2 separate regions of the Homo sapiens genome follow, and region 1 is linked to region 2. The links come from fine-mapping of genetic effects on gene expression. A gene starts in region 2. The other region holds a variant in brackets. All regions are shown on one strand. Distances are between the middles of the regions.

Evidence for each region. PIP is the estimated chance that this variant, and not a neighbour inherited with it, causes the effect.
Region 1: its variant is fine-mapped to the expression of LAMP1 in lung (GTEx, PIP above 0.99). The same link has a PIP of 0.9 or more in T cells, blood mononuclear cells, macrophages, monocytes, monocytes after LPS and monocytes after Pam3CSK4.

Annotation. Positions count from the first base shown.
Region 1 is chr13:113,271,273-113,274,180 of GRCh38, forward strand. No RefSeq gene overlaps it. Among named protein-coding and RNA genes, the nearest start is that of MIR8075, 9.8 kb to the left of the region's middle. RefSeq lists an enhancer at 2,710-2,908. The variant G/T (reference allele first, on the strand shown) is at 1,621.
Region 2 is chr13:113,295,757-113,298,664 of GRCh38, forward strand. It overlaps LAMP1 (lysosomal associated membrane protein 1), which reads left to right and starts at 1,483. Exons shown (of 9, transcript NM_005561.4): 1 at 1,483-1,739. The coding sequence starts at 1,679. RefSeq lists a silencer at 1,614-1,893 and an enhancer at 2,124-2,303.

The DNA of each region.
Region 1 (2,908 bases), 24 kb before region 2:
TCTTTTTTTTTAAGAGACGAGGTCTCACTGTGTTTCCCAGGCCAGAGTAGAGTGCCCTGGCCATTCCCAGGCACAATTCGATGCACCCCTACTTCCGGCCACATCATTTGGCTTTTGAGCCCCTGCATAGCTGTGATCCTGGAACCCATTTTCTCTGCATTCCTGTGTAGTTCCACTCCTTGGATCTCAGTCTTCTCTTTTTCTTGTCTTCTGGTTTTATTAAGTAGATTCTTTTTTTTTTTTTTTTTTTGAGACAGTCTCACTCTGTTGCCCAGGCTGGAGAGTGCAGTGGCACGATCTCAGCTCACTACAATCTCTGCTTCTTGGGTTCAAGCGATTCTCCTGCCTCAGCTTCCCAAGTAACTGGGATTACAGGTACACCACCACGCCCAGCTAATTTTTGTATTTTCAGTAGACATGGGGTGTTGCCATTTAGCCAGGCTGGTCTCAAACTCCTAACCTGCCTCAGCCTCCTGAGTAGCTGGGATTACAGGCACACGCCACCACGCCCAGCTAATTTTTGTATTTTCAGTAGAGAAAAAGCCAGGCTGGTCTCGAACTTCTGACCTCAGGTGATCCACCCACCTCGGCCTCCCAAAGTGCTGATTATAGGCGTGAGCCACTGTGCCGGGCCTCATTAGGTAGATTCTTAAATGATCTTCTCAGAAAGAATGCCTGGGAGACAAATTTCCTGAATCCTGGCTGGACTGTTTTTATTTTACACTTGTGTTTGATTGTTGGTCTACATAAAAACTCTAGGCTCAAAATCACTTTCCCTCAGAACTTTGAAGGGATTGCACTGCCATAGTCTTCTATTTTCTAGCTCTAAAGTCTGATGCCATTTTGTTAACTAACCTGTAGTTCTTTCATGTCACTTTTGGAATCTTCTGTTCCTGGACTTTTGGTATCTCACAAGAGTGTCTCGGTGTGTGTCCACTTTCATTTGGCCTCTGCCAGCCACCCACTGAGCCTTCAGACTGGAAGACTCCGGACTTCTGTTCCAGGAAGTGTTCTTTTTTGACATTCTACATTGCCTCTTCCCCTTCAACTTCTTTGCTGTCACTTTCCTTAGCACTAATCTTTCTAAGTAAACCAACTGGAAGGTCTAATGAGAAGAAGGGCTGGCCTCACCCCTCCCCACTCATAGTTCACTGTCCATCTTTGTTTCTGGTTAGCTTTTCTCTTGGTGGCCTCTATTATCAGATTATTGTTTCTTGGTTTTCTTTTTAATAAAAGATTGTTTTATGTTTTTATATTATTTCTTATTTTTCTTTTTAATAAAAAATTGTTTTTATTTTATTTCTAGAATATCTTCTTGAACCTCAAACTGTCCTCAATGGGTTAGCAGGAATTACACGCCGGGTTCTGGGCAGAAATGGAGTCATAACTAAGCATGAATCAGGCTGCACTTTGGCCCACTTCCTTGTAACTGGAAGTCTTGTAGCCCTGGATACTGATCATTTGCACCCCCATTATTCTCATAGATAGGACCACTGACGTTAGAACCATAAGGCTTTAAACATTGCTTAATATGTTTTTCAGATCCTCAATTCCAGCAGAACAGCTGACATCAACCAGTCAAAGGCTCCCACAGGGCGCTGAGGCGGCATGAGAATGCAG[G/T]TTCTTCATCCCCCCATCCCATGATTTTAGCCTGCACTCTTCAACCCATCAGCAACTCCCACACCTCGGCCACTCCGAAACCCTTAAAATCCCCAGCCCCAAACTCCTCTGAGAGGCGCGTTCAAGGCTTCCTCTGTCTCTTGTTCAGTTCCCCTCTGGGTGTTAAGCTCCGTCTCTGCTGCAATCCCCAGTGTCTCAGTGTACTGACTTCCTGCACATCAGGCAAATGATGTTAGGATTAAAATTACACACCAGTGGGGCGCGGTGGCTCAAGCCTATAATCCCAGCCCTTTGGGAGGCCAAGGTGGGCAGATTGTTTGAGCCTAGGAGCTCAAGACCAGCCTGGGCAACATAGTGAAAACCCATCTCTACAAAAAAATATAAAAATTAGCCAGGTGTGGTGGCACATGCCTATACTCCTGGCTGCTCAGAAGGCAGAGGTGGGAGGATTGCTTGAGCCCAGGAAGTCAAGGCTGCAGTGAGCCATGATGGCACCACTGCACTCCAGCCTGGGCAACAGCGCTAGATGCCGTCAAGAAAAAAATTGAACTAGTGCCTCAGAGAGTTGTCAATTTTTTTTCTTTAAGACAGGTCTCAAGCTCAAGCACGTGTGTTGTGATCTGGGCCCCCATTCGTCAGGCTTCTGAAGTCGTGTTTTTAGGCACAAGCCTGTCCCCAAGTCTATAGCATCTGGTGCACAGTGCTCAGTAAACACTGAGGAGTGAATGAAGCAGGGCCAGTGGAAGGAACAAAGACCAGCAAGATAAGAATGGGGAGAAGTACGAGTGTGACAGAACAAAAGAAGGGAGTTTTAAGGTATGGTGAGAATCAGAAACAGACCATCACGGTGGCATCTCGGGCCATTCAGTTTGTGTGCTGGGCCCGACGGGTAGTGGGTGCGGCGAGATGTAGCTGGAGGCAAGGCAGAGGCCAGGGAGAGCTGCTCTCGGGTAATGAGAATTGAGCAAGCATCAAACTGAGCAAGCAAGAGAGAAAAGGGGAGAATCTGAGCATACGGAAAGGAGAAATAACTGCGGGCAGGTTTCCCAAACAGCAGGGGAAACCACATCCCCGCGCAGCGTGCTCCTCCCAGGGAACAGAACAGGGAAACCACATCCCCGCGCAGTGTGCTCCCCCGGCAGAGGTCCTAAGGAAGCCGAGGGGCGGACAGCCGAGCAGAGGTAAGGCTTTCTGTGGTCCGTGATGGAGGAACCAAGGCCAACTGCAGCACAAGTTGAGGGAGCATTGTACTGAGAAGTGGACGCCTGCCAGGAGTCCACTCTTCACA
Region 2 (2,908 bases):
GAGGATAGGAAAAGGGGTTAATGGATCAATCCAAGGAAAGCAATGACGGGAACAAGGAGTGTATTCCAGCCTGATCCAGACAGAAGTCATTGTCTTCCAAGGAAGTCCTTGATGTGAGCAGATCCTTAGGCAGCAGATGCAGGGTGCTAAGCACAAGTGACAGCAAGGTGGGGTCTATCAAAATGCCAGTGTTGAATTGGTCAAATCCCGCCCTTTTTAAGGTCACAGTCCTCTGGTGAGGACTGATAGTGAGTGCCTGGTCCTGTCTTTATCTGGCTGAGTGCTGTCTCTATTAACTAGGTGCACATCCAGTCCCCGTTGCTATGATGCCTTTTGAAATGTAAGATTAAATCTTTTTCTAAGATGTAGGTACTTATGCGACGGGTGCTTTATACAAAGCAGTAGCGTAGGGGCCTTAATTAAATAGTATTTTAACAAAAGGCCATAAATCCTATATGATGACAAGCCAAAAAACAGAGCATCTTCAGACTTCTAAAATGCAGGAGCCAGGCGCCGTGGCTCAGGGCTGTAATCTCAGCACTTTGGGAGGCCGAGGCGGGTGGATTGCTTGAGGTCAGGAGTTCGAGACCAGCCTGGCCAACTGGTGAAACCCCGTCTCTACTCAACATACAAAATCAGCCGGGCGTGGTGGCGCACGCCTGTAATCCCAGCTACTTGGGAGGCTGAGGCAAGAGAATCGCTTGAACCCGGGAGGCGGAGGTTACAGCGAGCCGAGATCGCGCCACTGCACTCCAGCCTGGGCGACAGAGCGAGACTCCGTCTCAAAAAAAAAAACAAAGTGCTCGACAGGAACTTTCTGTAAGCCAAAGAGTATCGCCATCGCACCTTCACCTTCACCTTGGGCAGCCTGGTGCCGTCTTCCCTCAGCCCGCGATTAACGAGCGGAAGGCCGCACTGACCCATTTCAGATCCCTTATTTCCTTCCTAAAACCACTCAAGAGTTTGGGCACAGTGGCCTCCCTGTGTGAGGAACTTGCTTCCCACTCACCAAAAGACAAACCCTTCGCCCATCCCTGGCCGCGCACCCGGCCGGTCACCCGCGCTGCCACCCACACCACCCTCCTGTCCATAAAGAGCCCGCGTTTGGGACGCCTCGCAGGCTGAAGGGAGGCCTGGGCGTCCGCGATCCGTCTGCCCTTTCTCCCCTCGCGGGCTTCCTCTTTCCTCACTTTCTCCCGCCACTACTCTTCCTCTTCCTTTTCCGCGAACCCAGCCCACTTCCCGTTTCAGGACCTCGGCTCGGCCCCAGTCCCCCGGACCAGGCCGGGTCACGTGGGTCCAGGGTCACGTGCCGCTGCGGGTCACGTGCCGCTGCGGGTCACGTGTCGGCCTGCATCACGCGTGAGGGGGCGCGCGGTGCTGGAAGCTGCCGCACCTGCGGGGAGCCGAGCCGCCGGCGCTCGACGCGCGCGCTCTCGCGAGACCCGCGGGATCACGTGACGCCCGGGCGCGGCGCAGCTCACGTGACAAGCGCTGCCGGCCGCGGTGTCTTCTTCGTGCCGGCGTCGCAGTGGCCGGGCCTCTTGCGTCTGGTAACGCCGCTGTCTCTAACGCCAGCCCTTGGCGCCCGCGCCCCGCCACCGCAGCGCCCGGCAGTCCGCGGCCCAACCGCCGCCCGCGCCCCCGCTCCCCGCACCGTACCCGGCCGCCTCGCGCCATGGCGGCCCCCGGCAGCGCCCGGCGACCCCTGCTGCTGCTACTGCTGTTGCTGCTGCTCGGTGAGGGGGTCGAGGCGGGGCCTGGGAGCGGCGGGACCGGGCGGAGCCGAGGTCCCTGGGTCTTGAGGGCGGGGGACTGCCGGGTCGTTGTCCCGCGGGTCGCCCCGCACCCACTGCTCCTGGTCCCGGCCGGCTCTGCCCGCGGGCGGGTGTTTCTCTCGGGGTCGTAGGGTCGGAGCGGAGCTCAATGGCAGGTGCTTGGGGGACCAGGAGGTCTCATCCCAGGACCTGGCTCCTCTAAGGTCTGTCTCACTGAACTCAGTTTTTCTGTGGTGGTGAGTGCGAAAGGGAACTTCCGATGGCTTGCTCGGCGGTCTGGTGCTTTCAGGTCGTTAAGTTTCCTGGCAAGTTGAGGCGGTGAGATCTAGACGAGGCTGCGCCGCCGAAGGTGGCAGGGACGTCTGTGGTCTCAGCTCCCGGGTGGGTGACCTAGATCAAGCTCTTCCCAACATGGATTTCACCCAGGACAGGGAGAAGCCGGTGCGAGCATTCCCCACCTTTGTACTTGAACCTTTCTCCTCTTTCAGCGGTGTGGAGGAGATGCGAGTGTATTTATGTTATTGTGAATTCACATGTATGTTAAAATAATTTTTAAAGTTATCTTTGGGATTTCACAAGATTCCGTAGTAGACAAGATGAGGGAAAGCTGGCCTCAGACTCACGGTGGCAATGTTCATGTCTAGTAAGTAGTTTAAAGAGCGCCGTTCCTGTAGGCCGAAATGCGGGACCAGGGAACACGTGGGGAAGCACCCTTCTCTTCTGTCAGTTTATAGAGCTCAGATGGGCAGTAGGTGCTCAATATTGTATTGACTAGTGAATTTCGTTCTCATTTATTGTCTTAATAAGAGGATGTGTGCTGTCTCTTTAAGACAGTCCGGATTGCCCCCCGCCAACACTATTCTTTCACCTCCTCCCCCCGCCGCCCTCCCCCGTAATATGAGAAGATTATCTTAAATGCCAGGATCTGAAAGGTGATGTAGAATCAAGCTGGGGGAGTGTGTGTGAGTTAAGTAGATATAGAAATACACTCCTGTACACATCTGCCTTGACTTCTTTAAATCCCTCAGTCCCATCCAGCTGTAAAACTCTGTTACTGTGAGTGAATGGATCTTGGCTTCCCTTTTTTGTTTTGCCTGTTGTGTAAAATGAATTCTTTGAACTGCCTGAAT